Regions from separate parts of the Homo sapiens genome. Here all the other regions are linked to region 1. The links come from fine-mapping of genetic effects on gene expression. A gene starts in region 1. Each other region holds a variant in brackets. All regions are shown on one strand. Distances are between the middles of the regions.

Region 1 (8,100 bases):
CACTTTGGGAGGCTGAGGTGGTAGGATCGCTTGCGCCCAGGAGTTCAAAGCTGCAGTGAGCCATGATCATGTCATCGCATTCCAGCCTGGGCAGCATAGCAAGACCCTATCTCAAAAAAGAGGCCGGCCGCGGTGGCTCACGCCTGTAATCCCAGCACTTTGGGAGGCCGAGGCGGGAGGATCATGAGGTCAGGAGATCGAGACCATCCTGGCTAACACGGTGAAACCCCATCTCTACTGAACATCCAAAAAATTAGCCAGGCGTGGTGGCGGGCACCTTGTAGTCCCAGCTGCTCGGGAGGCTGAGGCAACAGAATGGAGTGAACCCGGGAGCCGGAGCTTGCAATGAGCCGAGATTGCGCCACTGCACTCCAGCCTGGGTGATAAAGCGAGACTCATCTCAAAAAAAAAAAAATGTTAATTTGGCATCTGCACTAGGTTGGGCCCTATGCCGGATGCTGGAGGATAAAGCATTGTCACTGTCTGAAGGGATCTTACATACAGATGAGAGCAGCAGGCAGGCGGGAGCTGTGGGAGCCTAGGGGACATGCCTGCAACACTTGGGGTGAGGAAGGATCCGGAAGCATCCTGAAGAATTACACCTGAGCCAGTGGGTCTGCAACGTGGCGCCAGCCAGGGAAGTGGGCGAGGGTAAGCTAAGCAGAGGCTACGGCACCAGCAAAGGCGTGAAAGTGAGAAAGGCCACCATGTGTACAAGAAAGTCACACGCAGCTCAACGTTCTTGGACAAGGAGTGCAAAGCAGGGAATGGAGATGGGATGAGGCAGAAGGGTCCAGCAGGGGCTGGAGTCGCCAATTACCTCATTCATTCATGTAATAACTTACGGAGTCGTTGTTCTGGCCAAGCACTGTGGTAGGCTCTGGGAACAGGGCTGAGATCTAGCCACTGTTCCTGCCTTCACAGAGCACAGTGTGGGCATGGGGCTTAGGGGCCAGCAGGAGACAGACATCAAGCCATTACACAAGTCACCACACACTCTGGCCATCAGGGCTGCAAGGCAGGTGCTCGAGCAGAAGGAACAGCCCGAGGCCCAGGGCTGTGCACCAGGGGGTGAAGGAAGTAACAGATGGCTCCAGCTGGGTGAGCATGGGCAGAAAGGGGTGCCCGAGGGAAGCGGGGAAGTCTATGGGAACCAGGTCACGGCCAGTGCAGGAGAGCAGACTCCATCCTGCAGGCTGTGGGGAGCCATGGAAGGGCTTTTGGCAGGACATGGCCACTCTGCAGGAGGGATCTGTTGACCTGGCTGTGGAGAACGGAGCGGGGACAAGAGGAGGGTGGAAGTGGCTTGGGAGACGGTGAGTTGTGGGCTGGGGCAAGGCACAGGGATGAAGAGGGGCTGTGTGTGTGACACACTCAGCTATGGAAGAAGCCAGTGCTGTTGACCCCACTTGGGCATCTCTGTGGGACCCATGAGGTACCTTGGCCCACTTTGGTGGAGTGCAAGGCCCTGGCAGCCCGAGGGAGGCAGAGCACCAGGCTCCAACTCGGAGACCACCCAGCTCTGGGGACTTCCCAAGGCTGGGCAGAGGGGGACTCAGCCCTGGGGAAGCTCAGGGTGGGGAGGAAGCTGGAGAGAGCACTGAGCCAGCATCTCATGACTCAGCCACTTCCACCCAGTCAGCCCGGTGGCATCTCCGCTCCCCTGCTCTAAATTCCGATTCGGTGAGACTGCTGGAGGCTGAGTCAGTCCCGGCACGGCACGAGAGCTGTGTCCCAAGGGGCTCCCTGCCAGACACCCTGGCCCCCAATCAAGGCCAGGGCCAGGCACGGGGCTGGAGAGGTGGCGGGGTGCAGGAGCCAGGCTCCAAGGCTACAGCAAGTCCCAGCAGAGTGGGGCGGCCCAGTGAGATCACGTAAGTGAACATGCTTTGTGAGTTATGAAAAGCTCCCTGTTTTCCTCAGTGGGCTCAGGGACCTCATTGCCCGAGGAAGGGACTGGGATGCAAGTCCTAGCTCTGCCCACCTCATCGCATGACACTGAGAAAACTCCTTTCCCCTCTTGGCTTCAATTTCCTTGACCACAGAATGGGGCCAACATCTCCCAAAGGGGTTGGGAGAATTAAATTTAATGCATATGAAAGCGCTTTGCAAACTGTCTAGTGGGCCCTATGATGGTCAGGGTGGTAGGAGAGGAGAGTATGAATGGCAGGGCTTCCAGAGAGACTACCTAGGGTTGTGCAGGTTGTTCACTGCACAAGGATGTCTAGCCTAAGGTGCTGAAATCCAGCCCATCCCATCCTCTGCTCCCCAAACCGCGTACCCCGGCCTAGGACTGCTTGGACTTGGTACCTTTCTCTAATATGCACAAATGCACCCTGAGGGCTAGCAGTGGCCCCTTAGACGTTCCTGGAGGGGTCAACCCCTGGAATTATGGGAAATCTCTGAGAAACTGATTACGGATGGAGGGGAAGTGGGGCTGGTTTTGCAGAGGTTCTTAGAGACAGTGCCTAACCTCAGCAGTGAGGCACAACTTATTGCTAGGGGCAGCTATGGGGGCCTGGCCGGGTCAAGGGGGTAGTCTCTCCTGGCCCTGCCCCTCCCTAGCAACGAAAGCAGGTAACCACCAAGACAGTATTTTAAAAAACACTCAAGACACAGACCCAAGCCGGGTTTTATTGAAATGCCAGGAGCAGGCACATGTCAAAGTAGCCAAGGAAGGGGGGACAGTGGTACAGGCTGTGTAAGTTGGCAGGGATGGGCAAGCCTCATGTCCATGGTCCTGGCATCCCCTCTGCCAGGGGATAAGTAGGCACAACTACCCTCCCCTCAAAATGGCATGCTCAGGCCAGTGGGGCCCCTACCCCTGGACCATGAAGGCTCCAAGAAGGGCTGGAAGCACTAAGTTTTCTCTCTCCTGAGGGGGAAGGAAAGAAGGGGAGATGCAGGAGGAAGGGGAGGTATAGCGGGGGATGAGCGTTCCAAGAAGTCTCTCCTTCTAGGTGTCTGCACCCAACTCATGGTGCTGGGCAGTGGAGAGGAGCAGCATTACAAAGGGAGGCTGAAGGCTCATCCCTCAGGGAACCGGAGCCCCCCAGCCTGTGGGGCTTGTGTCAGCCCTGAACAGAGGGCAGAAGTTCAAGGGGACTGAAGATGCAGGTAGTTCCCAAGTGACCTAGGAGTCCCCAGAGCTGGGGGGTGTGGCCTTCATAGGACAAGGAGGAAGACAGGAGGATCCAACCCCAGCATGGAGGGGGGAGTGGGCAGTCTCCCCAATTTGGCCCCCCTAGGTCAGTTCCACGTTGTTGGCACGGTCAAGCACTCGGGAGCCACGGGCACTACCCCCAAGCTGGAAACGGCTCTCATAGAGAGTGGGGCAGAGGTGCCAGCGATTGGCCCGGTAGATGCCCAGGTAGGTGTAGACATCAGGCTTGTAGGTGAGCAGGCACTTAATGCCCGCTGCACGGATGGCTGAATCCGCCTCCAGTACACCCAAGCGGTCCGTGAAGTCGTCCGTGTAAACACAGATGACCTGGCGCCCACCCTCCTTGGCACGTGGGCTCACCTTGGCCACCTGAAGCTGGCCTTCAACCACGGCCCGGGCAATGCCAGCCCAGGCGTGGTCCAGCTTGAAGCCCGGTGCCAGATGCATAAGCCACTTGCCCGAGAGCACGTGGTGGGTGATGGCGAGCTGGCGCAGGGTACCCGGTGTGATGGGCCGCCCACTGGTCTGCAGAGCTTCCCAGGCTGCCTGCAGGCCCTGCACGTCCCCGGAGTTGGGGCTGTAGCCCTGCCCATACACTGCAATCCAGCCCACAGGCTCTGAGTTGGGTGAACCGGGGTCCCCATAGCGGGTAACTTGGGATGGTGGGTACTTGGCCAGCCAGGCATCCAGCTCAGTGGCAGGCGTTGTGCGGGCATCAAACACTAGCCAGGGGTCCATGTCAGCTGCCATGGCCTCTGCAGCCAGGTGCTCGGCGGTGAAGCCATCCTCACGGCCACCTGGAGAGCCCTCCTCTTCCAGCTCCTCACCTGGTTCCATCCTGCTGTGAGGGAACCGAGTCAGGGCAGGGTCTGAGACAATAACTACAGATGCCAGGCACTGGATTAAACTGTGGCCTTGAGTAAGAGTTACTGTCGATGCGCCTCAGTTGCCTCATCTTTACAATGGGATAACAACTGTTCCTGTCCCGTAGATCTGCTATGAAAATTAGATGCCTGAGGAGTCAGCGCTCCAGAAGGGTTGCTGCAGTTATTACTATTCTCCTTGACTTACAGAAAAGGAAACTGAGGCTGAGAAAAAGGACTTGCCCAAGGTCACACCTGCAGTGCGTGGCAGGGCCGAAGGGTGAATCCAGGCGTGGGAGCAACCAGCCCCAGCTACACCTCCCGGCCCTGCCAAGGCCCCCTTTTCCTGGCAGGTATCCGGTGCGCTGGCATTTAATAGAGGAACGCAAAGAAGCGCACGTTCGCGCAGCTCCCGAGGCCGGCTCTGTAAGGCCAGGCCTCCCAGGCAGGCGTTATCGGGCCCACTTACAGACGAGGACGCTGAAGTCCAGAGAGGTTACAGGCCGTTCCGAGGCCAATGGGGCGGTTCCCAGACTCGAACCAGGGCTTGTTAGAGCCTGCAGGAGAGCCAGGCTCCGGCCGTGCCGCGCCCGCCGCCATTAACGCCCACGGGCCCGAGCTGTGCTCCCGCCCCGGCCCTGCCCTGCCCCTCCCGCCGCCCGCAGTCACCTCCGGCCTTCGCTGCGTTCGACGCCGGCCCAGCCCCGGGCCCGGCTCCGCTCCTGCCGTGGCTCCGCGCCACCGCCACCGCGCCCCACCCCCGCCACGGCCGCCGCCGCCGCCGCCGCCATCTTAGCGCCGCGCCACCTCAACAACAACTTTATAGACAGGCGCAGCCACAGGGCGGAGCCGCGGGCCTCAGCGGCCGCAGCGGCCGCGCTGTGGGGCGGGGCCGGCAGGGGAAGGGGCGGGGCCGACGGGGAGGTGCTGACTCGGGGGCGGGGCCATCGCGGGAACCCCGGGAGGGGCGGGCCGCGGGGGGCGGGGCCAACGTTCGCTCTTCTGGCCTTGGGGGCGGGCGGGAGCGGCGGTCCAGACTGGGGAGGGACGCGCACCGGCCAGGAGGCTTCAAGAGGAGGGCACTAGGGCCCTGCGAGCGGCGTCTTAACCGGCGGCGCTAGGACTCCGCGGGAAACGGCGGGGGCGGAGCGGGCGGCACCAGGACCCAGGGGAACCGCGACGGGCGGGCGGCGAGCAGGCCCGGGAGCCGGGAGGCTGCGGGCGGCGGCGCTGGACCCGACGCGGCGAGAGAGGCCCCGAGATGCCGAGCAAGAAGAAGAAGTACAACGCGCGGTTCCCGCCGGTGAGCACGTGGCAGAGCCCGGCAGGAGTGGGCCCGGCTCCCGGGTGGCTTGGGCCCAGTTCCCGCTGGGCAGGCGGGCGCGCCGCGGTGTTCGGGGGCCTGGACGCCCCGCCCCCTCCATGCCCTCCCCGCGTCCGTGTCCCCCGCCCCCTTTCTCCGGGGATGCCCCTTCCTCCCCCAGCACCCCCTTAGGGGACGGTGGCGACGGGGTCTGAACTCTGCTCCCCCACCCGCAGGCGCGGATCAAGAAGATCATGCAGACGGACGAAGAGATTGGGAAGGTGGCGGCGGCGGTGCCTGTCATCATCTGTATCCTGCCGGGGGCGGACCGGGTCGAGGGGCGTGGGGGAGGGAGGCAGCGGGTCGCCCTCTCCTGCCCCGGAGTTCTCCTTGACGCTCCTCAGCCCGGGCGCTCGAGCTCTTCCTAGAGTCGCTGTTGAAGAAGGCCTGCCAGGTGACCCAGTCGCGGAACGCGAAGACCATGACCACATCCCACCTGTGAGCGGCGAGGAGCCGGGAGGGGCCGGCGGGTTTGGCGCGGGGAGTTCACACACTGAGGAAGGCAGAGCCTGGGTGGCGAGGGAGGTGGGCGGCAGCCGGGACACCAGCAAGGCCACAGACTGGCAGAGGAGAGGCTGGGCTTCCAGGCAGAGGGAGCCACCTGAGTAAAGCAGGGCAGGCCCGGGAGCGGAGATCGGCCCGGGCTCCAGCCTGACATCTGGGGCCCCTTGCTGCCACCCACTGCGGGTTTGGGTGTCTGGGCCCCTCTTGAGTGCCAGCCCCTCCTCACCTCTTCCAGGAAGCAGTGCATCGAGCTGGAGCAGCAGTTTGACTTCTTGAAGGACCTGGTGGCATCTGTTCCCGACATGCAGGGGGACGGGGAAGACAACCACATGGATGGGGACAAGGGCGCCCGCAGGTGGGGCCAGGGCCTGGCATACAGTGGGGAAGGCCAAGGCCACAGGGCTTGGGGGTGGCCAAGGAGTAGGGAGCACTCCGGGCAGATGGACTGTACCTTCCCAAAGGGGCCGGAAGCCAGGCAGCGGCGGCCGGAAGAACGGTGGGATGGGAACGAAAAGCAAGGACAAGAAGCTGTCCGGGACAGACTCGGAGCAGGAGGTGAGTGAGGCCCCAGCCCTTCGCCCTGCCCTTGGTGATGGGACAGGCAGCCTCGCCCCAGGCTGAACTGGCAGGAGGCCAGCTCTCATCCTTTTCTGCAACCTGTTTGCTCACTGGTTTATTTGTAAATTGGGGCTATGAGGGTCTACTGCTGTCCCTGCCACTCCCAGTGATGGGTTCGTGTCTTTTCTTGTCAACTCTGACCTCTGCGGTGCTCACAGGATGAATCTGAGGACACAGATACTGATGGGGAAGAGGAGACATCACAACCCCCACCCCAGGCCAGCCACCCCTCTGCCCACTTTCAGAGGTGAGCAGCCCAGAGGCATGGGAGGGTGCTGGCAGACTCCCCAGAGCCAACTTACCCCTCTTGTTCTCCCTGGCCCCTTGGTCTTGTTGATTGTGGCAGATTTGTGGGGTGGAAGGAGAATAACTGAGGAGGGCTTGAAGGCAGGAGACTGTTCTCCCGAAAGATCCTGCTCCACCCTGCCAGGGCCCGTGGGTGGGGCCTGGGCCTGCCCTGCGTGAGCTGCCCTGGGCCTTGGCCGCATGGATCTGGAGGGTGGTGGTGGGAGGGTCAGATGGGGGAGGGAGGGTCTTGGCAGCTGCCCCTGTGGAGGGCACGGTGGGGCTCAGGCCTGACTCTCTCCTGCCTTCTGCCCTGCAGCCCCCCGACACCCTTCCTGCCCTTCGCCTCTACTCTGCCTTTGCCCCCAGCGCCCCCGGGCCCCTCAGCACCTGATGAAGAGGACGAAGAAGATTACGACTCCTAGCGCCTTCTGCCCCCCAGACCATAGCCCCTTTTAGTTGGTTTTAGTTGCTCTGGGGGGAGGAGAGAAGGTAGAGCTGTTCTTAAATTTATTAAAAAAAAAAATAAAAGGGAATCTCAGTGTCTGTTCCAGGCTCTGCGCAGGACGTCATGGTTGCCATCCCATCCACCCACCTGCCTTCCCCACATGAAACTGGGAGCTGGGGCCGGGTGCGGTGGCTCACGCCTGTAATCCCAACACTTTGGGAGGCTGAGGCGGGCAGATCACCTGAGGTCAAGAGTTCAAGACCAGCCTGGCCAACATGGTGAAACCCCGTCTCTACTAAAAATACAAAAATTAGCTGGGTGTGGTGGTGCATGCCTGTAATCCCAGCTACTAGGGAGGCTGAGGCAGGAGAATCGCTTGAACCTGGGAGGTGGAGGTGGCAGTGAGCTGAGATCACGCCACTGCACTCCAACCTGGGCAGCAGAGTGAGACTCCATGTCAAAAAAAAAAAAAAAAGAAACTGGGAGCTGGGGCCGCGTCAGTGGCAGGTGAGGTGGCAGCGAGGGGAGAGAGGGGTCATCCGGGGAGGCTGGAGGCCCTGGGTCTGCTGAGTGCACCACAGCTGCGGACAGAAGGGAGTTGGGAGAGCTTGCAAGTGCTGGGCATGCGGGGGACACTTGCCACGTGGTGCTGCTGACCCCCGGTGGGCTGCTGACCCCCGGCGGGCTGCTGCCCTGCTCTGAGCAGCCCCTTGTCTCTCTGATGGAGACTGTTCTGCCCCCTGTAGTCTGCTGTGAAGGGATAAGTGGGACAGGGAACAGGTACAGGTCTTGGAAACTGTAGAGTCCTGTGTCCAGTGTAGTGAAGGGCAGGTGGAAAGGAGCAAACATAGAGAGA
Region 2 (8,100 bases), 67 kb after region 1:
TTCAGCTCTGCAGCCGACTAACTTTCTGGCTCTAGTAACTGGGCAGACTACGTGGTGAACCAGGGGCCTCCTCGTTCGCGCCATCTTGCTTCCTCTCTGCATCTCTGGCTCTTGGTCCTAGCCCAGAGACTTCCCTTCTCTGCCCTGGTGTACTCTGCTCTGCTCCCCAGCTGTGTCCTGCCCATGTGCCCAGGGCTGGGAGGGGTTGGGGACTACCAAATCCCTGGAGGCCTGAGCCCCCAGAGCAGACAGAACCCAAGGCGGCTTCCCACCTCTGCTGCTCGGTAGCCGGACACCAACGGTGCTTCCCCTGCCCTCAGGTACCTGAGGGGCAGCGATGGCTCAAAAGCTGCCCTGAGGGTCAGTGAGCCCTCAACCAGGGCCTCAGCCAGGTGGGTGGCACTCAGGGAGGACAGGGTGCTTATGTTTGCCCTCTATGTTTCCCTTCACTGCTGCCTGACCTGAGGCAGGTCACCAAGTCTCTGTCTTACCTACAAAATGTGCGTGTTGAGGGTGGGGGGCGTGATCTCAAGACTTCTAGGGCCACCCTACTGCATAGTTGAGGACTGATCCTTCCACAGCTTCAACAAAAATGTACCGAGCATCTGCGAGCGCTGCCTAAGAACCCAGAGCAAAGCCGGACAGGCTGCCTGGGCCCATGGGGCATGGGCCCTAAGAGCAAGCAGCCACTGCGCAAGGGCACAGCCAGGTGTGAAGGATGGGACGAGGCCCAGCTCCTGCCCTCCCAGGGCCCATCTCTCCTCGTGATGGGCCTTCCGGGTGTGGTGATGCCAACCCCAGCCCACAGCCCAGCAGTCCAGTGCTGTGTGGCCTTGGCTCTGAGCAAGACCAGGATGGGGTCCCCCTCTTGCTCTCGGGGCCTGCCCTCTCCTGTGCGCACCCCCTGCCCAGGTCCTCCAGGCTCCTCCAAGCCTCTGCCTGTGGCCCCAAACCTGCCCCACCCAGCCCCAGGCAGGGCCCTGCCTCTTCCTCCACAATTCAGAGATGCTCTGGAGGGTGCAGGCAGGCCCTGCCAGCATGGGCTCCCTGTGGACCTGGGAAAAGGTGCCCTTCTGGGCAGTGGACGCAGGCCTCAGGAGCACAGCCTGGTGGGCAGATTCGCCCCCATTCATCCTACAGAGTGGTCCCTGGCGCCCCTCAGTGCCAAACCCACGATTGCCCCGGGGCTTTAGTTCCCTGCCCTGCCTTCCCCAGCTGGTCCTGTCATTGTCCCTTGGCATCCTCAAGAAGGGCTCAGCCCAGGTGTACATTGGGCAGTGGACTGAAGGGGACAACCAGGGTGAGGACCTGGCTTTGCTGGTGTCGGGTCTCTGCGTTTCAGTGCCATGGGTGGGAAGGGCGGGCTGGTCCCAGGAAAGTGGGGATTCAGCAGTAAGTTCCCAGGAGGAGCAGGATTAATTGGCTGGAGTTCCCAGAGAGACCCACCAGCAGCCACGTGGACAGTGGAGAGCAGGGTGGGGCTGAGGACCCTGGCAATGCAGAGGTTGCTAAAAAGATTTTTCGAAACCGTGATACTGTTTAGAACCCATAGGAGAAAAATGATAGCTACTAAGATTAAAAAAAAAAAAAAAAAGCTACAGAACCCATAGGAAAAGTTGCAAGCGATACAAAGTGTTTCCCCTTGAACCATTTGACAATCGGTGGTCAAGGGGATTCCGTACCGCCCCAACTAAGTGTGTGTTTCCTGCAAACAAGGGCGTTCTCCCACATAAACTAACGCCACCTAGGACATTGGGAAAAGTACCGTTGATGCGTCACTTCCACCTCATTTTAGACCCCAACTGTCCTAATGTCTATTTTTTTTTCTTTGAGTCGTAGCCTTATTTATTTACAAGCACTGGATGAGTCCCTGGCCACCCCCCAGGACAGAGCAACCCTACGCAGCCCCAGCGCAGTTAAATACAGTTGGGAGCTAGGGGACTGGAGGGAGGAATTAAGGGAAATACAGGACTAGGGACAAATACTCTGTTAAGTGGTCACATACGGGCCAGATCCTGTAGTCTGCAGAGCCACGGCTGTCACCACCCCCACACCAGGACATGAAAGGTAGGGAGAAGAGCCTGAGGGAGCCGAGGCAGGCCCAGGGGTGCCCACCCGTCGTGCCATAGAACGTGGAAGGGACAGGAATGGCTCTCAGGGAGTGTATGGGAAGGACGAGGCCAGAACTGTCTTCTTACGGGACCCAGTTTTAGGAAGAACACCTGGTTTGCTTTTCTGTAAACACAGCGGCCTTGAGGGAGCGGCTGCCCAGCAGAGGCTCTGCCTACCCCAGACCCGAGCACAGCCTAGCTCCTTCCCACCTCTACCCAGAAAGGATGGCAGCTGCTGGCTCCCAGCTCCCTTGAAGGGACCAGGCACAGTCTGTGAGTCCTCATGGGGCTCAGGAGAAGCTCTGGACAGGGTGGCTGACCTTCAGGCAGGCCCGAAAGAGGGCCTGGCCCAAACACAGCACAGCCAGCAAGATGACAGACACCAGGCTGCATGGAGGCCTCCATGTCGCCCCGCATGCTTCCCTGAGCCAAAGCAGGTAGCAGATATGTCACTTCCACGGATATCTGCACCCATAGATGACACTTTCCAACAGTGAGGGTGACATGTGAACTCTGTCCATGGAAGAGTATTCCTGCAGTGCCCACGGATGGCCCTGACACCCACCTGAGGTTCTGGACCCCACAGTGATGATTCCTTTGCAGTAGGGCCGAGGGCAGGTAACCCGCTGGGAAGTCACTTTGCAGATGAGACAGCTATGAGGACTTCAGACATCTTTCTCCCTCGGGTGCATTCTGGATTGGAGCAGCTTTGTTGCAGGTACTGCATTGACTACAAGCTGATGAGTTCTGCCTTCCACCTTGATGAGCAGTGGGCACTCTCACTCCCCAGGCTGGTCAGGGTGAGTAGGGGGCTGGGTGTACCTCATAGAAGGGGGTATGCCTGGGGTGGGGCAGGTTTACTGGCTTCACTCAATGGTACAAAGGGGGTCAGCATCTCTGGGCCCAGCCCCACTCCCATCCCACCCTACTAAATCATTGCCAAGGGAAGCCTCTCCATCTGCGGCCACCACTAGCAGGTCACCAGCCTAGTAATATCCTTTTTACTTTTTTTAAGACAAGGTCTCACTGTGTCGCCCAGGCTGGAGTACAGTGGTACAAACATGGCTAGCTGCAGCCTTGACCTCCTGGCTCAAGTGATCCACCCACGTCAGCTTCCTGAGTAGCTGGGACCACAGCTGCATGCTATCATGTCTGGCTAATTTTTTTGCAAAGACAGGGTCTTGCTATGTTGCCCAGGCTGGTCTCAAAATTCCTGGGCTCAAGCAATTCTCCTGCCTCAGCTTCCCGAAGTGCTGGGATTGCAGTACTAGCCACACCCAGCCGATAGTAGGTTTTAGCAAAAGGATTCAGTTCAGGCAACTGCACCCATTGCAGTTCTGGCCATGAGCCACCACACCCAACCAGAATTATTTCAAAAGATTTTAAGATAGAATATTTTGACCTCACATCCCTAGTAGGATATCTATTTAAAAATTTTTAAATTAACATAATGAAATCTTAAACACATTTAATAGTCTTATTGTTAGTAATAATAATGATGATATTGGCTGGGCATGGTGACTCGTGCATGTAATCACAGCACTTTGGGAGGCCGAGGCAGGAGGATTGCTTGAGGCTAGGAGCTGGAGACCAGCCTGGGCAACATTGCGAGATCCCCATCTCTACAAAAAATTTAAAAATCAGCCAGGCATGGTGGCATGCACCTGCAGTCCCAGCTACTCAGGAGGTTGAGGCAGGAGGAGTTGGAGACTGCAGTGTTCTAGGATCATGCATTGCACTCCAGGCTGGACGACAGAGCAAGACCCTGTCTCAGAAAAAAACCAAAAAATACAAAGAAAAGAAAACTGAAGCTGTGTAACAGGTACAATGGGATTCATTATTCCATTCTATCTACTTTTGAGTATGTTTGAAAATTTCCATTATAGAACTTTGTTTAAAAAGAGAGAACAAGAACATGTTGGCTTAGCAACAGAAAAGCATACATATGTTCAGCTAAAGACATGAACAAGAATGTTCTTAACAGCACTATTTATAACAGCCCCAAACTGGAAACAACCCAAATGTCCATTAACAGAAGAATGAATAAATAGCCGGGCATGGTTCTTAGTGCCTGTAATCCCAGCTACTGGGGAGGCTAAGGATCCCTTGAGGCCAGGAGTTCAAGACCAGCCTGGTGACATAGTGAGACCCACCTCTAAAAATATTTTTTAAATTTAGCTGGGTGTGGTGGCTCATGCCTGTATCTGTAGTCCCAGCTACCCGGGAGGCTGAGGCAAAGGATTGCTTGAGCCTGGGAATTTGAGGCTGCAGTGAGCTATCCTCACACTTGTGAATGGCCACTGCACCCCAGCCTGGGTGACAGAGTGAGACTCTGTCTCTAAAAAAAAAATCAACAAAGGGTAGACATTCATATAACCGAATGAGTAACATGGATGAACCTCATGGACATGAAATTATACATACTGTTTGCTTCCATTTAATAC[A/G]AAATCTGGAAAAATTCTTTTATTCTATTAGAAGCAGTATAGAAGGCTGGGTGCGGTCACTCATGCCTGTAATTCCAACACTTTTGGAGGCCAAGGTGGGAGGATTGCTTGAAGCCAGGAGTTCTAGAGCAGTCTGGGTAACAAAGCAAGACCCTGTCTCTACAAAAAAATTTTAAAAATTACCTGGGCATGGTGGTGTGTGCCAATAGTCCCAGCTACTCAGGAGGCTGAGGCACAAGAATCACTTTAACCTGGGAGGTGGAGGTTGCAGTGAGCCGAGATGGTGCCATTGCACTCCAGCCTGGGTGACTGAGTGAGGCTCTGTCAAAAAAAAAAGCATCGTTTTAAATAATGACATAAATATAAAAAATGGCCAGCATGGCTGGGCGCAATGTCTCACGCCTGTAATCCCAGCACTTTGGGAGGCTGAGGCGGGCGGATCCCGAGGTCAGGACATCGAGACCATCCTGGCTAACACAGTGAAAACCCATCCCTACTAAAACTACAAAAAATTAGCCGGGTGTGGTGGCGGGTGCCTGTAGTCCCAGCTACTCGGGAGGCTGAGGCAGGAGAATGCCGTGAACCCGGGAGGTGGAGCTTGCAGTGAGCCGAGATCGCGCCACTGCACTCCAGCCTGGGCGACAGAGCGAGACTCCGTCTCCAAAAGAAAAAAAAAAAAAAAAAAAAGGCCAGCATGAGAATGAGTGAAAGTTCATAAACTCTTCCTATGGTGACTCACATATGGCATAAGGAACTAGCTCACTGGTTTTGCCTTCTCCTTCCTCTCTTCTGTAAGGTTCTTCATTTCCCAGGCCTGTAACTTGCTGTCTTCCCACTACGGTGCCTTCTAATAAAGAGCTTCCAAAACTAAAAACAACGTAAATCTTTGCTGCGGTTATTTTTTGACGCATCAAAAAAGGCACCAAGCCTAGATGTTTTTAAAGCTTCAAAAGTTTATTGACCGGCACCATGGCTCACACCTTTAATCCCAGCACTTTTGGAGGCCAAGGTGGGCGGATCACCTGAGGTCAGGAGTTCAAGACCAGCCTGGCCAACATGGCGAAACCCTGTCTCTACTAAAAATACAAAAATTAGCCGGGAATGGTGGCAGGTACCTGTAATCCTAGTTACTCAGGAGGCTGAGGCAGGAGAATTGCTTGGGGCCTGGGAGGCGGAGGCTACAGTGAACTGAGATGGTGCCATTGTATTCCAGCCTGGGTGACAGAGTGAGACTCCGTCAAAAAAAAAAAAAAAAGGTTATTATCTAAAGGCTTTACCTTTAGATAATAGATCATTCAAATGCTATTTAAACTACTCCAGATCAGAGAAAAAGATGGTAAGCGCTCTTAACATATTTTATGATATTAATAAAATACTGATAGCCAAATCTTCTCATTGTTTCTGAAGTTTGTTTTCTAGAAGTTCCTTCTGTCTGCTGGTGATAAACTCCTATATTCTGTTGGTCTGAATGTCTTCACCATGGTGTAGGGAGGAGACAGCCGTCGTGGCCCCCAGGGCTGTGGTGAGAATCAAAGCTGTCCTGCCTTGGGCATGTCTCCAAAGCCCAAACACACTGGGAAGACGGAGTTGGCCCCACTCAGGGTCTCCACTCAGATCAGGCTGGGTCCCACTTCCCTCTCCCTGAGCCCCGGACACATCGATGCTGTCATTGCATGCTGATTCTCCGAGTCCCTGAGCCCCGTACCCCCCGGCCTTAAGGAGCCTTGCCAGTGTCCTCCCCACCTCGCCCCTGCCCAACAGACACAGCACGCCACCTGCTCTGCCTTGGGTCCCAGGCCTTTCCCTCCTCAGGCACCTGTTCAGGGGCAGTGAGAGAAGCAAAACAGCCCTTCTGTGCCAATGCACACCCCACCTGGGGAAGGAGGCAGACAGGAGGGCTCCTCAGAAACGGCTGATTTGTCAGCCCTGGACAAAGTGAAAGGGAGAAGCAAGAAGCAGGACAGATGGGCAGGTCTCCTGCGGCCCACCCCCCCAAAAAAGGAATGTGTGGGCCGGGCGCAGTGTCTCACGCCTGTAATCCCAGCACTTTGGGAGGCTGAGGCGGGTGGATCACCTGAGGTCAGGAGTTCAAGACCAGCCTGACCAACATGGAGAAACCCCGTCTCTACTAAAAATACAAAAAATTAGGCAGGCGTGGTGGCAGGTGCCTGTAATCCCGGCTACTCAGGAGGCTGGGGCAGGAGAATCTCTTGAACCCAGGAGCCAGAGGTTCCAGTGAGCCGAGATCACGAAGCAAGGAAGGAAGGGAGGGCGCGAGGAAGGAAAGATGTGGCCATAGATCGTGAGTAGGATCGATAAGACAGAACTCCATTGTCGAAAGCTAAATTATGGCAGACACAAAGCGGATGGGAGACCCACATGAAAGAAGGCACTTGGAGCCTTCAGAGAAGAACGCAGGGAGGCAAAACCCCCAAAGGCCTGAAAGCTTCAGCAGTCACTAGAAGGGGAGCTGAATACATGTGCTGAGGGGCCCTGGGGAGACGACCCTTCCAGAGGCTGCAGTTCTTAGGTCTTACCAGCCCCTCCTTGCTGCCCATCTACCAGGTCCAAGGCTCCCTGAATCCTCAGACATTAACTACAGGGGTACCTCATCCTTGTCCAGAGCAGGGTTTCTGGGGGACACAGCCACAGACACCTCCATGTGAGTCCTCCTGCACCTCAATTTGGGTGCTTTCTAACTGAAAGACCAGGGCGGCCAGGCGCGGTGGTTCACGCCTGTAATCCCAAAACTTTGGGAGGCCAAGGCGGGCAGATCGCCTGAGGTCGGGAGTTCAAGACCAGCCTGACCAACATGGAGAAACCCCATCTCTACTAAAAATACAAAATTAGCCAGGCGTGGTGGTGCGTGCCTGTAATCCCAGCTACTTGGGAGGCTGAGGCAGGAGAATCGCTTGAATCCAGTAGGCGGAGGTTGCGGTGAGCCAAGATCGCGCCAGTGCACTCCAGCCTGGGCAAGAAAAGTGAAACTGGGTCCCCCAAAAAACAAAAAAACCAGGGCAGTTCCCCACCACCCTCCAAGCACTGTACTCCAGCTTGTAAATGCTGCTGGGGAGGAAGGCCACTTCTGATCATGCCTTGGTGAGTGAATCCATCTCTGGGGGAGTGGAACTTGTGTTCGCAGTGGTCTACCAGCATCCTAACTGCTGTTGGGGCATGTGGACCCTTTGATTGGACCAAGAATGCAGTTCCCTTATGAGACTGTAACTAGGTTAGATGCTTTCGGGTTCTGTAGCCCAAGGCAAGGTGCTGACTTGCTGGTTTTACGTGCTTAGGGTGACCTCTGCTGGTGGCTTCTCTAAATGTTGGCAGAATACACAGCCAGGAACTGCCGGTACCGTCTCACATCAGCCAGTAGTTGGAGCCACATTGCTATCAGAAGGAAAAGAGTGCTCTTCTCATACAAGAATTATTAAAACAAAGTGATGCCCAATGCTGTTCAAGAATGAACAGCCTGGTCTGGTTAGTAACAAAGGATTCTGGTACTTGGCAACTCATTGTGGATTAGCAAGGGTTAAATAACAAAG
Region 3 (8,100 bases), 910 kb before region 1:
GAGGCCGGGGCCTGCCTGTGCCTCTTGGGAGGCCTTTTTCTAAACAAGGGACTAGCAATGAACCGAGGCTGGTGCTGCAGACAGAGACCTGGGTGCCTCCCCCAGCACTGCCATCTGCCTTCCACTACAGGGCTCAGTCTTCCCTTCCCACCACCCGTCAGGAAGCAGTACCTATGAGATGCCCTTTTTTTTTTGAGACAGAGTCTCGCTCTGTTGCCCTGGCTGGAGTGCAGTGGCGCAATCTCAGCTCACTGTAACCCCTGTCTCCCGAGTTCAAGCAATTCTTCTGCCTCAGCCTCCCGAGTAGCTAGGATTACAGGTGCCCAGCACCATGCCCTGCACCACACCCAGCTAGTTTTTGTATTTTTAGTAGAGATGGGGTTTCGCCATGTTGGTCAGGGTGGTCTCAAACTCCTGACCTCAGGTAATCCACCTGCCTCAGCTTCCCAAAGTGCTGGGATTACAGGCATGAGCCACCGTGCCCAGCCAAGATGCCTTTTTTGATTTGGGCCTGGTGTGGGAGTTGGAATCTGTGGGGATCTCAGAGAGCGGGAGCCGGGTCTGCCTCAGTTTGGGGGGCTGAGAAACCTGATGGTAAGAACAAGGCTGGTGAAGCCCTGCTGCTTCCTGTCCGTGTGAGCAGCTAGAAAGCAATTCACAAACCTCTATCCTTATTTCTATCACGCAGCAACTATTTCCTGAGCATCTCTTATGTGGCAGGCCCTGCTCTAGGTGCTGGGAGACATCTGTTTTTTAAAAAAAGATCCAAATCCTGCCCTTGTGAAATTTCCATCCTAGGGAGGAGCAGGGAGACGATAATTACATTAAGTGAATTATCTAGTCTGGTGGGAGTCCACAGGTACCAAGGGGAAAAGAGAGCTAGGTAAGGGCCATGGGGAGTGTGGGGTAGGGGATTTCACATGTAAATAGCGGGGTCAGACTGAGCCTCGTTGAGATATTTGAACAAAAAAAAATTGTTTCTGACATTGGACTTTTGAGCAAAGAATTAAAGACGAGAGAGCCGTGACAGTGAGGTACCGGCTGGGGTCGGGGGGCAGAGTGGTGTAGTGGACTCCTGGGACTGGCAGGGTCCAGGGAGCAAGAGATTGGGGTGGAGGCCACGGGCCATTCATGCAGGGGCTCATAGGCCAGTGAGAACCTTGGGCTTTTACTCTGAAAGATACAGAGAGCACCAGAGAGCTCTGAGCAGAGGAGAACATGATCTGATGCATAGGTTAAAAGGGTCCCTGGTCGGGCTTGGTGGCTCACACCTGTAATCCCAGCACTTTGGGAGGCCGAGGCAGAAGGATCACTTGAGGTCAGGAGTTCGAGACCAGCCTGGCCAACATGATGAAAACCCACCTCTGTAAAAAATACAAAAATTAGCCGGACGTAGTGGTGCATGCTTGGAAGGCTGAGGTGGGAGGATCACTTGAACCCAGGAGGTAGTGGCTGCAGTGAGCCGAGATTGCACCACTGAGCAAGACTCTGTCTCAAAATAAATAAATAGGCTGGGCATGGTAGCTCACACCTGTAATCCCAGCACTTTGGGAGGCAGATGTGAGCAGATCACCAGAGGTCAGGAGTTCGAGACCAGCCTGGCCAACATGGCGAAACCCTGTCTCTACTAAAAACACAAAAATTAGCTGGGTATGGTGGTGGATGCCTGTAATCCCAGCTACTCGGGAGGCTGAGGCAGAAGAATCGCTTGAACCCAGAAGGCAGAGGTTGCAGTGAGTCGAGATCACGCCACTGCACTCCAGCCTAGGTGACAGAGTGAGATTCCATCTCAAAATAATAATAATAATGATAACAAATAAAAATAAAAAATAAAAAGGTTGGCCAGGCGCAGTGGCTCATGCCTGTAATCCCAGCACTTTGGGAGGCCGAGGTAGGTGGATCACCTGAGGTCAGGAATTCGAGACCAGCCTGGCCAACATGATGAAACCCCATCTCTACTAAAAATACAAAAATTAGCCAGACATGGTGGCTCATGCCTGTAGTCCCAGCTACTCTGGAAGCTGCGGCACAAGAATCATTTGAACCCAAGAGGCGGAGGTTGCAGTGAGCCAAGATCACGTCACTGCACTCCAGCCTGGGTGACAGAGTAAGACTCTGTCTCAATAAATAAATAATTAATTAATTAAATAAAAAAGGGTCCCTGTGCCTTGGAGCAGGGGAGCAGGGAAGCCGGTCAGGAGGCTGCTGCAGCGATCCAGGTGAGTGGGTGGGGGGGTCTGTCATGCGGAGAGAAGAGTGGTACCTGCCTCTTAGGTTCCGGAGTGAGGGCACAGCAGGACACGGGCAACCAGGGGCAGCAGCTGCGCTCCTGCGTTCATTCACCAGGCCTGGCCCCATGGAGGCAAGAAGCATCTAGCACAGCTTTGCTCCTGAGGGGCCACAGGCAACAGGTGAGGTGTACGAGCACATGGCTGTTGGAAGATCTCAGATTTTCAAGTCCTTTCTACCTCCTAAGGTTCTGGAAAAGCTTGCAGATGTCATGTGCCTTTGCGTGGTGAATAACACCTCCTTTTGTCATCTGGAGTTGGAGAGGATGCCTCTGCTGCCTCCCACACAGGCAGCTGGGCTAAGACCTGTAATGCAGATGCTTGAACACTCTGACTTGTCTTATGAGGCATGCAGCAGTGGCATGCAGGATGTACACACCCACTGAATCATCACTGACCAGCACTGAGGACCTGGCTGCCTTTGGATATGTAAAACCTACATAGGCTGAGCACAGCAGCTCACGCCTGTAATCCCAGCACTTTGGGAGGCCGAGCTGGGTGGATCACTTGAACCCAGGAGTTCAAGACCAGCCTGGCCAACATGGTGAAACCCTATCTCTTCTAAAAATACAAAAATTAGCCAGGCATGGTGGTGCATGCCTGTAATCCCAGCTACTCGGGAGGCTGAGGCAGGAGAATCGCTTGAACCCGGTAGGTGGAGGTTGCGGTGAGCCAAGATTGCGCCACTGCACTCCAGCCTGGGTGACAGAGTGAGACTGTCTAGAAAAAAAAAAAAAACCTGCCGGAAGATTAGCAGTGGGAGGGCAGAACTATGGTCTGTATGCAGTTGCCATCTCTGTGCTTCCAGTTCTTTGCTTATTAATTAGTAGGACAAAACCTACACTTGGGTAAGCTGCCAGCACGTGCTTGCTGGTGCCTCTGTCACAGGCATGTGGTCCAAAAAATAAGACTGGCATCCTAGATTGTCTTATCAGAGAGGGAAAACAGGTTTTCTGTCTTCTCATTAAAACTGTAACTTTATTATAAACAATCTAATATAAACAATGTAGGTTAAAAGAATTAAATAGGCCAGACATGGTGGCTCACGCCTGTAATCCCAATGCTTTGGGAGGCCAAGGTGGGGAGATCACTTAAACCTAGGATTTTGAGGTTAGCCTGGGCAACAAGGTGACCCAAACCCTGCACTCCAGCATGGGCCTGGGGTCCTGGCCTTGCCAATCTCACCTGGTCACAGTGATTGATGTCAGGAATAGGCACATGACCCAAGCCAGACCAAGGAAGGACAGGCCTGGGAGTTTTGTTGGAGTTACTGGGAAAGTGACAGGGTCTGGGGATGTGCCCCCCTGGGGTGATACTAAGCTGGTGTTTCTGGTGGCCGTCCTACTCCCATGAGCGGGTTCTGCCTGAGAATGTAGCCAGCCCGGAGGACAGCAGATAGAGGAAGAGTCTGACTCCCAATGACATCGTTTGGGCCTCATGTCTGAAGCTGGTGCACTCTAGACTTGGTAGTAATTTAACTTAGATCATCTATAAGGGAAAGAGACTCCTCTAACACAGATATCTGCCGCCTCCCGGTGAAGGTTTCATGAGCAGCTGCATGAAGAATACTTCACTTGCTGCAACACTGCAGAAAAATAAGGCAAGTCCACAGAGGGCAACAAATGACAGTGAAGGGTTAAACAGGAAAACTAAGAATCCAGAGAACCCAATTTCCCATCTCTTCGTGAGACTCCTTTATAAGTGTAAGAAATCTGGAGCAATTTACACCAGATATAAGTGCTGCTTCTCACACATGAACACAATCATAACTTGCTCCTTCTTTTTCTTAATTTTCTTTTGAGACAGTCTCATTCTGTCTCATACAGGCTGGAGTGCAGTGGCGCAATCTCGGCTCACTGCAACCTCCGCTGCCGCCCACCACCCCCAGGGTTCAAGTGATTCTCGTGCCTCAGCCTCCCAAGTAGCTGGGACTACAGGTGTGCGTGACCACACCCGGCCAATTTTTTGTATTTTTAGTAGAGATGAGGTTTTGCCATGTTGGCCAGGCTGGTCTCAAACTCTTGGCCTCAAGTGATCCACCCAGCTCGGCCTCCCAAAGCACTGGGATTACAGGCGTGAGCCACCGTGCCCAGCCTCATCATTATTTAAGAAAAAAAAAATTAAAAATAAAAAAAAATAGCTGGGCATGGTGGCATGTGCCTGTGGTCCCAGCTACTTGGGATGGTGAGGTGGGAGGATCATGTGAGCCTGGGAGGACGAGGCTGCAGTGAGCTGTGATCATGCCACTGCACTTCAGCCTAGATGACAGAACGAGACCCTGTCT[CAAA/C]AAAAAAAAAAAAAACACACACACACACACACACACAGAAACTGTGTGTCTAGAGCAAACTTAAAAATAAATATTTAGATAAATAAATAAATAAATAAATAAATAAATAAATAAAATACTTGGGTATACTCCTTGCTAATGCTTAATGGCCAGCAGTTCTAATTTAAGCAGAGTCTTCTCCCCTGGCCTTTTTTCCTTCTGGTTCCAGAATATAGAATTCTGTTACTTTTCTTATTATTATAAAGGTAATCCATGAAATATAATGGCTGATTAAAATGATTTACTTTTTAAAATTAAAACTATAATGCCAAATTTTCAGGCCCGGCACAGTGGGTCATGCCTGTAATCCCAGTACTTTGGGAGGTCAAGATGGGAGGATTGCTTGGGGCCCAGAGTTTGAGATCAGTCTGGGCAACACGGCAAAACCCAGTCTCTACAAAAAATACAAAAATTAGCTGCGTGTGGTGGCACAGAACTTTAGTCCCAGCTACTCAGATGGCTGAGATGGGAGGATCACCTGAGCCCAGGGAAATCAAGGCTGCAGTGAGCCGTGATTGTGCCACTTCACTTCAGCCTGGGTGATAGAGTGAGAACCTGTCTCAAAAATAATAATAATAATAATAATAATAATAATAATAATGTGAGACCCTGTCTTAAAAATAATAATAATGCCAAATTTTTCTTTCTAGACGTTGGGTAAACATGCCTTGTTAAAAGGCTGTAGATCTCTATCCTCAAGTTACAAGCCACTTACTCGGCCCTAAGAAGTTTCCCCTTCAAAAGCAGGTTTCACAGATGTCACGATTTGGGTATTTTAATTTCACGATTCTTTCTTGTGAAAAAAAAATATATATATATATTCATATTCACAATTATATATAACTACAGCTCTATACATCTTCTTTCCTAGTTTTCTTCCAAAGGTATTTCCCAAAGATTTTATTTAAGAGTGCTCTTCTGCTCCTCTGCTTGAAAGTAAAAAAAAAAGAAAGAAAAAAAGCCAGGTGCATTGGCTCTTGCCTGTAATCTCAGCACTTTGGGAGGCCGAGGTGGATGACTTGAGGTCAGGAGTTTGAGACCAGCCTGACAAACATGGTGAAACCCCGTCTCTACTAAAAATACACAATTAGCCAGGTGTGGTGGTGCACACCTGTAATCCCAGTTACTTGGGAGGCTGAGGCAGGAGAATCGCTTGAACCTGGGAGATGGAGGTTGCAGTGAGCCGAGATTTTGCCATTGCACTCCAACCTGGGCAACAAGAGCAAAACTTCGTCTCAAAAAAAAAAAAAAGAAAAAAAAAGAGCTCTCCTCCTTTCCATGAGGCAAATGAAAACACAGCTCGTAATGAGGCCCCTTACTTGTCTTTAAATGCCTCTCCACCCAATTTCTAGCTACAGTCAGTTCTTCAAAAGTTAAACACAGGCCAAGTGGGGTGGCTCATGCCTGTAATCCCAGCACTTTGGAAGTCTGAGGTGAGAGGATCACCTAAGCACAGGAGTTCAAGACCAGCCCGGGTAACACAGCGAGACCCTCGTCTCTACAAAAAATTTAAAAAATTAGCCGGGCTTGATGGCATGCACCTGTAGTCCCAGCTACTCAGGAGACTGACGTGGGAGGACTGCTTGAGGCTGCAGTGAGCCATGATTGTGCCACTGCACTCCAGCCTGGGTGACAGAGTGAGACCCTGTCTCTAAAATATGTTTAAAAAGTTAAACATAGTTGGCCGGGCGCGGTGGCTCACGCCTGTAATCCCAGCACTTTGGGAGTCCAAGGCTGGCGGATCACGAGGTCAGGAGATCGAGACCATCCTGGCTAACGCGGTGAAACCCCGTCTCTACTAAAAATACAAAAACTTAGCCAGGCATAGTGGCGGGCATCTTTAGTCCCAGCTACTCGGGAGGCTGAGGCAGGAGAATGGTGTGAACCCGGGAGGCGGAGCTTGCAGTGAGCTGAGATTGCGCCACTGCACCCCAGCCTGGGCGACAGAGCAAGACTCTGTCTCAAAAAAAAAAAAAAAAAAGCTAAACATAGTTACTTCCTGAACTCCCCCTTTTTCACAGAGCTTGGATGTTGTTTATTTTTATTTTTTTAATTTATATTCACTGAAATTCTACCATGTGGCCCCTGGGAACAACAGCATGGACAGGCAAGACTTTAAGCCAGACATTTGAACAAGTTCTTTCAATGCTACTGGTAGGAAATAAAACAATCCGAGGCTGGGTGCGGTGGCTCACACCTGTAATCCCAGCCCTTTGGGAGGCTGAGGAAGGCAAATCTCTTGAGGCCAGGAGTTTGTGACCAGCTGGCCAACATGGTGAAACCCTGTCTTTACTGAAAATATAAAAATTAGCCGCGCATGGTGGCTCATGCCTGTAATCCCAGCTACTCAGGAGGCTGAGGCAGGAGAATAGCTTGAACCTGGGAGGCAGAGGTTGCAGTGAGCCAGGATTGTGCCACTGCACTCCATCCTGGGTGACAGAGCCAGACTCTGTCTCAAAGAAAAAAAGAAAATATAGACACACCCAAGGTAATAATTTTATGTTCTCCCAAACTTCATTGCCCTGATTTTCAAACTTTTGTGACTGTGATTCACAGTGAGAAGTACACATATCTGTATAAATATCTAAAACAAATGTTTCACCAAACGCTACTTAGCTTTACTACGTGGGTAAAGGTAGTAATGTTTTCAGTTCTGTTCATTCTATTTCATTTTTGTTAATGCTACTAGGTTGAACCATTTGAAATACATCTGTGTATCAAAACTGTCAAATATGGGCAATTTCATACAGTTCAACCTATTTGTGACACTAATTTTACAATCCACTTCCTTAATGGAATGCATCTCATAGATTAAAAAACATTGCTAAGTGGGCATATTTCCAGTTAATATTATTTTTAAAACTAAAAGAGGACTGAATTTTTGTTTTTGTTTTTCATTTAATATGGCGCGGACATCTTTCCACACTGGTATCTTACAGCTCCACCTCACTGTTTTCTGTTTCTTTGAGACGGTCTAACTCTGTCATGAAAGCTAGAGTGCAGTGGCATGATCACGGCTCACTGCAGCCTTATCCTCCCTGGTTCCCACCTTGGCCTCCTAGGTAGCTGGAACTACCGATGTGCACCACTACACCTAATTTTTTTTTTTTTTTTTGAGACAGACAATTTCGCCCAGGCTGGAGTGCAGTGGCACAATTTCAGCTCACTGCAACCTTCGCCTCCTGGGTTGAAGTGAGCATGTCTGGCTAATTTTTGTATTTTTTATAGAGATGGGAGTCTCCCTAAGTTGGCCAGGCTGGTCTTGAACTCCTGGGCTCAAGCAATCCACTCACCTCTGCCTTCCAAAGTGCTGGGATTAGACATGAGCCACTGCGCCTGGCCCACTTCACTGTTTTAAGGGCTTCATGAATTCACATGCACCTACCCCGGCTCAGGTAACCTGCCCTCACTGGAGGCACTTAGGTTTTTTCCAATTTCTTGCTGTTCCAAACCATGCCACAGTGAACTTCGTTGTTCCTGTGCAGT
Region 4 (8,100 bases), 93 kb after region 1:
TGAGCATGGAAGGCTCCCAGCAGGTGCTTGTGACTGTTGATCCCTTTCCAGGCTGGCCCCTCCCTGTGGGGACCAGGGCTCTTTCCTGTCACTCCCAACCTTGACTGGTGGCAGCCTTGAAGAGCCAGCCAGGCCCGATTCTGGGGCTTTGCTCCCCATGCGATCTGGAGCAAGTTGCTTCACTCCCCTGAGCTACAGCCTCCTCTGCCAGCTGATAACAGGGTTGTGAAGATTCAACCAGTGAATCAGCAGCGCTTAGGAGCGCTCCTCCCCAGAGGGGAGCTTTAATCCCTGTTGGATTACAGGTTTCCTTGCTGAAAGATCTCCTTTCCAGGATATGGGGCTACAGAGCCCTGGGGGGAGGGCAATATCCTCTGCCCAACTGAAGGTTCAAGGAAGAGGGTTCTGGGGGAAGCATCGAAGCCTTGGAGAGCCTGATCCCAGAGGGAAGGAGATGTCAAGAACCTGCCCTGGTCATCTCCACCCATCAGGCCAGGGGCAAGAGAGGGGTGCTGTGGACAACCTGGGGTGGGATGTCTGGGCCACTGCAAAACTGGAGGCTCTGCCCTGTGGCCAGTACATTTGACCGACCTCAAGCTCACGCTTGGCGCAAACCTCCTGGAAGCCAGAGTGGTCCAGACGGGATGGAGTCAGGCCCTGGGAAAGTCTGCTCAGGGACACCCCATCTGCAAGAAACAACCCCTACACCATGCACAGCAGACCTCAAACCCCTGTGGAGCAGCCCAGGACTCATGCACCGGGACCCACCACTAACCTTTCCCCTTTGATCTCCCATTTCCTCCTTGTAGGAAGAGATAATAGTCATTGTCTGTGCAGAGCTGCTATGGGAATGAAAGAACATATATTGAATCCCTGGCGCAAGGCCTGGCACACAGCAAGAGTTCTTACCATTGTTAATCCTCCCCACCTTTTCTTACCAAGATACCACTTCTAGCTGTGTGACCTTAGACAAGTGTCCCGACCTCTCTGATTAACTTCTTCATCTGCAAAGTGAGGATAATGTGTACTCCCTCAGGGTGCTTGTGAGAATCAGTGGGTGAAAAGTGCTCAGAAATTGCTAGGTTGTACTGCAAAAAAAGTCCTTTGCATCAGCACAAAGCAGAGGCAGGTGGAGTGGGTGCCCTTGGTGAGTGGCAGACAGGCCTTGGCTAGTTTTTGAGAGAGCTGTTGGAGGTACCTGTGGCCATGGCTAAGCTCCAAGTGATGACACAGCAGGCCCAGGGGAGCTGCCTCTCCCACCTCGCCCCTGTGGCACGATCCTGGTACTCTTCCTCTACCCCTCCCAGGCTTTCAGCTCAGAGTCCTGGCCAGGCGTCATCCTCCTGATCAACTCAAGCTCGGCCAGCACTTCCACAAACTGGAGTCTGTCCCTTTAAGCCAGACACCTGAGGCCGCCAGGAACTTGTGACGGTTCCTTGGAATCCCAGGAAGATGGCAGAGTTGGTTTTCCACAGCTGGGCTGAGGAAGTGAGGTGGGTAGCAGGCTGGCAGCTGCCCTGGGCAGTGAGTGACCGCTGTGGTCTAGGTCTCTGTGTGGGAAATCACTTCCTTTTGTGGTCCTGGGATTCTAAGGCCCAGAATCAGGAAGGGAGGGTGACACGCTGGATGCCTACATACAATATCCATCACAGTGACAGTTGCCAGCTGCTCTTTACGTACTGTGACCTAGCACCTCTTCCAAGCCCCAGTGAAGCCCCTGGAGGCTCTAAGCACTGCAAGATCTTAGTGCCCCAGGGACAATAAGCCCCGCCCCCCAGCAACATGGAATTACAAATACAAACTACACTGAACTCTAAAATGCAGACAAATAATTCCAAGGCCTGCCTGTAATCCCAGCATTTTGGGAAGCTGAGGTGGGAGGATCTCGTGATCTCTTGAGGCCAGGCATTCGAGACCCACCTGGCACTACTGTGAGACCCCATCTCTACAAAAAAATATAAGAATTAGCCAGGTGTGGAAAAAAATTAACCAGGCATGGGGGCATGCGCCTGTGGTCCCAGCTACTTGGGAGGCTGAGATGGGAGGATAGCTTGAAGCCAGGAAGTCGAGTTATAGTGAGCTATGATAGCGCCACTGCACTCTAGCCTGGCTGACAGAGCGCTGTCACAAAAAAAAAAAAAAATTCAACAAAATCCAGACTTTTCTTGCGTTGACTACTTCAACACTGCTTTTCATCTGTTCCTTTTTTTTTTTGAGACAGAGTCTTGCTCTGTCACCCAGGTGGAGTGCAGTGGCACCATCACTGCTCACTGCAGCCTCGACCTCCCAGACTCTAGTAATCCTCCCACCTCAGCCTCCCGAGTAGCTGGGACCACAGGCGTGCACCACCATGCACAGCTAATTTATTTTAGATTTTTTGGTAGAGACGGCTCACTATGTTGCCCAGGCTGGTCTCAAACTCCTGGCCTCAAGTGATCCTCCTGCTTCCGACTCCCAAAGTCCTGGGATTACAGGTGTGAGCTACCGTGTGATTAATAGATCACCACCTATTAATAATAATCAATTAATTATTGGAGTCTTTTTTTTTTGAGATAGAGTCTTGCTCTGTCACCCAGGCTGGAGTGCAGTGGGTGCCGTCTCAGCTCACTGCAACCTCTGCCTCCCAGGTTCAAGTGATTCACCCACCTCAGCCTCCCAAGTAGCTGAGACTACAGGTGTGCACCACCACACCCAGCTAATTTTTGTATTTTTAGTAGAGATGGGGTGTTGGGAGCCGAAAGGGCCAAAGGGATTGTGACCAACTCAGCATTCCACTGAAGGCTATATGATCAAACAGCCACCTGTTTATCACGAATGCAGGATGTGGGCAAACTCCCACTGCCCTGCCACCAAAAGGTTTGCTGAGGGCCTTACTCCTTGGCACTGGGGTCCCTGAAGTTATCTACTGAGAAAATTAGCACCTATTGTTCAAAGGATGCAGTCTCACAAGCCTGCTGTGAACCAAAGTGCTGACCGACAATTACCTGACATACCCGACAATCACCCTCCCCCTTTCTCGCTATCTCTTTTGCCTACTACATACAGAGGGCTGTGTAAAGCTCAGGGCCCTTGTCCACTAGAGGCAAGGTGCCCCCTGACCCCTTCTTCCAAATATACTCTTTTGTCTCTTGTCTTTTATTCCCACGTTTGCCCGGCTTTGTTCAGTCCCCCTAGGTCCGTGCGGGCTATGATGGGGTTTCACCATGTTGGCCAGGCTGGTCTCGAACTCCTGGCCTCAAGTGATCTGCCCACCTCGGCCTCCCAAAGTGCTGGGATTACAGGCGTGAGCCACCACACCTGGCAATTATTGGAGTCTTTAAAAACACAGTCATGGGCCTTGTTTGCTGGTACCTCCAGCACATGCTCACTGTATCCACGGGACAGCCAGATTCGAAACATCAATATCAGAACAAACTTAGGAGATAAGGTGTCTTTCAGACGAGGGCACGGAGGCTCTGTGTGGGAGGTTGAGGGACTTGCCCAAAGCCATGCCGTCAGTAAGATGGCAGAGCTGACATGACTGACACCCCCTCCTTCTGGGCAGTTTGTGTCCTGTGGGCTCAGTCTGGTTTAAGACCACAGATTTGACTTAGACTGTCAGCACACACAAGCCAGTGTCACCATTTATTTCCTGCCGGTGTCTTTGGGCAAATCCATTTTCCCTTCTCTGTAAAGTGGAAACTATTTTTTTTCTTTTTTCTTTTTTTTTTTTGTGAGACAGAGTCTCTCTCTGTCACCCAGGCTAGAGCGCAGTGGTGCCATTTTGGCTCACTGCAACCTCTGCCTCCCAGGTTCAAGCAATTCCCCTGCCTCAGCCTTCTGAGTAGCTGGGAATTCAGGTGTGTGCCACCACGCCTGGCTAATTTTTGTATTTTTGGTAGAGACGGGGTTTCACCATGTTGGCCAGGCTGGTCTTGAACTCCTGACCTCAAGTGATCTGCCTGCCTCGGCCTCCCAAAGTGCTGGGATTACAAGTGTGAGCCCTCATGCCCGGCCTTCTTTTTTTTTTTTTTTTTTTTTTTTTTTTTTGAGTCAGCGTCTAGCTCTGTCGCCCAGGCTGGAATGCTGCAGTGGTGAGATCACGATTCACTGACTTGAACTCCTTGGCTCAAGTGGTCCTCCCACCTTGGCCTCTCAAAGTGCTGGAATTACAAGCATGCCTAGGTGCCTGGCCAGGTAGAAACATTAGTCACTCGCGCTCCAGGAAGGTTGTCAGGCAGCGCTGAGCAGTAATGTGTCCTACTCACCTGCTGTTTATCCAGCACCAGACCTCTTCTAAGAACTTTACCTGTTTCAGCTCACTGAATCCTCACAACACCCATTGTACAGAAGAGGAAACTGAGGCAGCGAGTGGTTAAGTGACTTCTCCGAGGTTACACAGCTAGGAAATGGTGGCAACAGTAAGAGCCCACGAAGAGCTGCGGTTGGTAGTTCATTCTGGACAGCCCTCCCGTGAACCGTCCCTGTACTGGCACTTGTTGCTGGGGACTGTCGCTGTCCTCTCCCTCCCCGGGCCAGGTGTGTCCTGGAGGGCAGGGAAGCGTCTTGGCACGCGGGTGCGCGCCGCCCCCTCGGCCTCCTGGGCTCCCTGAACCTCGCAGGACCCCGGCAACTTCGAGCCCCGCCCCAGCTCCAGGCCGCGGGGGCGCATCGCGGGCGTCGGGCGGGGCGGCCCAGCGGGTAAAAGCTGCGCGGCCGCAAGCTCGGCACTCACGGCTCTGAGGGCTCCGACGGCACTGACGGCCATGGCGCGTTCGAACCTCCCGCTGGCGCTGGGCCTGGCCCTGGTCGCATTCTGCCTCCTGGCGCTGCCACGCGA[C/T]GCCCGGGCCCGGCCGCAGGAGCGCATGGTCGGAGAACTCCGGGACCTGTCGCCCGACGACCCGCAGGTGCAGAAGGCGGCGCAGGCGGCCGTGGCCAGCTACAACATGGGCAGCAACAGCATCTACTACTTCCGAGACACGCACATCATCAAGGCGCAGAGCCAGGTGCGGCGGGCGGGGTGCTGGGAGGGGACACCCGGCCCAGATGGGGGAGGCCACAGGCGCTGCCCCAGCGTGCATGAAGGGGGCCTAAAAGCGCAATCGGGATATTTTCATGCAATATTTTAAAAATCGAATTAATGCTAAAACTCCACGATGGACAACCATCTAAATTTCAAGGAAAGACATAATTAAACCCTGTATTGCACTACCTGCCTTCCTGGCTTGCCTGGTCCTAGTCTCTGCCCTGATGGGGTGGATCGGGGAGGAGGGAAGGCAGGTGGGGACAGTGGGCAGCTCCCTAGATGGGGCATGTCTGATGTCTGCCAAGGCTGCTGGTGGGGCTCAGCCTCCAGGCCTCTCCACCCTCCATCCCCACCAGAACTCCCCCCCCCACCCCCCCCCACCCCCCCCCACCCCGTCTGAATCATCCCCTCTCCCTCTCTCCCCACCTGAGTGCCTGGGGGCAACAGGAGAATATATCAAGAGGTGAGAAGTGAGGATCAAGGGTCAAGACCCCTGACCTGCCCCTACCCTATGCCCCCAGCTGGTGGCCGGCATCAAGTACTTCCTGACGATGGAGATGGGGAGCACAGACTGCCGCAAGACCAGGGTCACTGGAGACCACGTCGACCTCACCACTTGCCCCCTGGCAGCAGGGGCGCAGCAGGAGGTAACAGCTGGGCTCCTCCAGCCCCAGCCCTCCCCAGAGCCTCAGGCACTCAGGTTGTCCATCCTGAACTGGTTTGGCTGGACACGTAGATGTCTAGATGTCTGGCTGAACCTGTCGTCCTTCTGGATGAGTCAGCCTCTGGGCCAAGATGGGGTGCAGAAAGGAAGCTGGGGCTTCCCTCGGGAATGGGGAAGTTGGCTACCAAGATCTGGAGTCTAGCCCCAGACATGCGGCTTGACATCCGTTGGGTCAGTGATTGTCCCTCTCTTGGCCTGGAGCAGCCTGGCAGGCAGAGGGCTGGCTGTTGGGAGGAGACAGGTCGAGGCTGGGCTCACCCCTCCTTCTCCCCCATATTCCCTCCACAGAAGCTGCGCTGTGACTTTGAGGTCCTTGTGGTTCCCTGGCAGAACTCCTCTCAGCTCCTAAAGCACAACTGTGTGCAGATGTGATAAGTCCCCGAGGGCGAAGGCCATTGGGTTTGGGGCCATGGTGGAGGGCACTTCAGGTCCGTGGGCCGTATCTGTCACAATAAATGGCCAGTGCTGCTTCTTGCATTGGTTTCTTCCAAGTGCTTCGCTTCTGCCCCCATCCCCCACTCCCACTTCTGGCAGCTCCCAGCTCCCCAGCCCAAGCTGAGAGGTCACCCTGCCACCTGCAGCAGAGCTGCTGCTGTCCCAGCCCAGACAGTGCTGAAGGTGCAGGGCTGAGCCTCCAAATGTGGAGCCCCCAAACACCCCAGCATCACAGGCATAGAGGAACAAACCTTAGAGCCCCCACACACAGCCAGAGACTCCCAATATTCTCAGAGGTCAGGGGTGGCGGCAGACTCACAGAGGAGGGGCGATGGCCTGAGATAAGAACAGGGCCGGCTGCCTGGGAGCACTCTGAGGAGGAGTCTGTGCTGTGCTCCCACTCAGCCCCAGGAGGAGCTCATGGGTGGCATGGGGGGCTTCAATCAGGCAGTGTCCTCACCCAGGACACTGAGCTCCCAGCCTATAAAGATTCCTCCACCTGCATGTGGCCCAACGATGGCAGAGTCCCTGCAGGCCAAGAGACCATGAAGGCTAGGACAGTGCCTCTCAGTCCACACTGTGGGCTCCACGCCACAAGGACGCCTCTCTTGCCTTGCCCTGGGCAAGACGCCTGAAAGGGGCTAGACTAGGAGCCGCAGAGGGACAGAGATTGTCTAGCGCCCACAGGAGGGGTGAGGGGACAGATTCAATGTAATGTCATTTAAAGAAAACAGCATTGCAGCCGGCCTCACACCTGTAATCCCAGCACTTTGGTAGGCTGAGGTGGATGGATCACCTGAGGTCAGGGGTTCAAGACCAGCCTGGTGGCCGGGCGCGGTGACTCACGCCTGTAATCCCAGCACTTTGGGAGGCCGAGGCGGGCAGATCACGAGGTCAGCAGATCGAGACCATCCTGGGTAACACGGTGAAACCCCGTCTCTACTAAAAATACAAAAAATTAGCTGGGTGTAGTGGCGGGCGCCTGTAGTCCCAGCTACTCGGGAGGCTGAGGCAGGAGAATGGCGTGAACCCGGGAGGTGGAGCTTGCAGTGAGCCGAGATGGCGCCACTGCACTCCAGCCTGGGCGCCAGAGCCAGACTCCATCTCAAAAAAAAAAAAAAAAAAAAAAAAACCAGCCTGGCCAACATGGTGAAATCCCATCTCAACCAAGAATACAAAAATTATCTGGGTGTGGTGGCAGGTGCCTGTAATCTCAGCTACTCAGGAAGCTGAGGTAGGAGAATCGCTTGAATCCAGGAGGCAGAGGTTGCAGTGAGCCGAGATTGCGCCACTGCACTCCAGTCTGGGAGACAGAGCGAGACTCCATCTCAAAAAAATTAAAAATAAAAAAAGAAGAAGAAAACAGCATTGCAACATTTGCACATCTGAATTTGTGGCTGCAATTCATACCCCCCCATACATATACACACGCACACACCCAAAGCACAACACACCAGACATACACACACAGACACCCAGAGCACACACTCAGATGCTGGCAGATATCACATGCATACCCAGAGAAACACAGCCTAGCAACTCATGAGCACAGAAGCAACACACCCTAGAGAAACAACCTGGAGATGTACACACAAAACTCAAACACAACCCAAGGACCCACATGCCACACCCAGAGGTTCCTCAGATGCACAAGCACACACCCACACTTGGGATATGGGCCTTGGGGGTGCTAGGTATAGGCACCATCAGGCCCAGGCAGGCAGCACTGCAGTGGCTGCGGAGAGCATCCCACGGTCCTTCCTTTCTGACAAGGCCTCACACCCTGCTTGTGCCTGCCTGGTCCCCTGCCCAAGGCTGGGGCCTAATAAGCAGCAGCCCCAGCTCCCAGGCCCTGCTGTCGGCCTTTGGAGGCCAGATTGGGGTAGAGACGGGGAAACGGGAAGTAGACCCTGGGTCCCACCTGGGAGTGAGAAGC

Alleles and levels. Alleles are on the strand shown, and positions count from the first base shown. SD is a standard deviation of normalised expression in the study named. Not every link is listed here.
In carriers of allele CAAA in region 3, the expression in fetal neocortex of the gene that starts at base 4,848 in region 1 tends to be lower than with C alone (large effect, 1.5 SD a copy in Walker 2019).
For the expression in esophagus mucosa of the gene that starts at base 4,848 in region 1, T is the low allele of the variant in region 4 and C is the other (small effect, 0.25 SD a copy in GTEx).

What was found. PIP is the estimated chance that this variant, and not a neighbour inherited with it, causes the effect.
Region 2: its variant is fine-mapped to the expression of C11orf68 in whole blood (TOPMed, PIP above 0.99). The same link has a PIP of 0.9 or more in breast, esophagus muscle, fibroblasts, lung and tibial nerve.
Region 3: its variant is fine-mapped to the expression of C11orf68 in fetal neocortex (Walker 2019, PIP 0.95).
Region 4: its variant is fine-mapped to the expression of C11orf68 in esophagus mucosa (GTEx, PIP above 0.99).

The regions. Positions count from the first base shown.
Region 1 is chr11:65,914,215-65,922,314 of GRCh38, forward strand. C11orf68 (chromosome 11 open reading frame 68) reads right to left here and starts at 4,848. Exons shown (of 2, transcript NM_001135635.2): 1 at 4,696-4,848; 2 at 2,596-4,004. The coding sequence starts at 4,817. The coding sequence ends at 3,245. DRAP1 (DR1 associated protein 1) reads left to right here and starts at 5,212. Exons shown (of 7, transcript NM_006442.4): 1 at 5,212-5,329; 2 at 5,566-5,638; 3 at 5,734-5,827; 4 at 6,129-6,248; 5 at 6,355-6,448; 6 at 6,670-6,758; 7 at 7,116-7,349. The coding sequence starts at 5,288. The coding sequence ends at 7,221. RefSeq lists enhancers at 1,046-2,245, 1,286-1,845, 1,549-1,693, 1,846-2,405, 3,965-4,884 and 1 more, a cis regulatory region at 1,616-1,627 and a silencer at 4,602-5,671.
Region 2 is chr11:65,981,278-65,989,377 of GRCh38, forward strand. It overlaps the pseudogene LOC100420020. Among named protein-coding and RNA genes, the nearest start is that of EIF1AD, 17 kb to the right of the region's middle. RefSeq lists an enhancer at 8,085-8,100. The variant A/G (reference allele first, on the strand shown) is at 4,556.
Region 3 is chr11:65,004,402-65,012,501 of GRCh38, forward strand. No RefSeq gene overlaps it. Among named protein-coding and RNA genes, the nearest start is that of ARL2, 5.7 kb to the right of the region's middle. RefSeq lists an enhancer at 2,039-3,238. The variant CAAA/C (reference allele first, on the strand shown) is at 4,573.
Region 4 is chr11:66,007,300-66,015,399 of GRCh38, forward strand. CST6 (cystatin E/M) reads left to right here and starts at 4,709. Exons shown (of 3, transcript NM_001323.4): 1 at 4,709-4,985; 2 at 5,527-5,652; 3 at 6,018-6,206. The coding sequence starts at 4,746. The coding sequence ends at 6,101. RefSeq lists a silencer at 59-353 and enhancers at 1,011-1,805, 6,191-6,766. The variant C/T (reference allele first, on the strand shown) is at 4,820.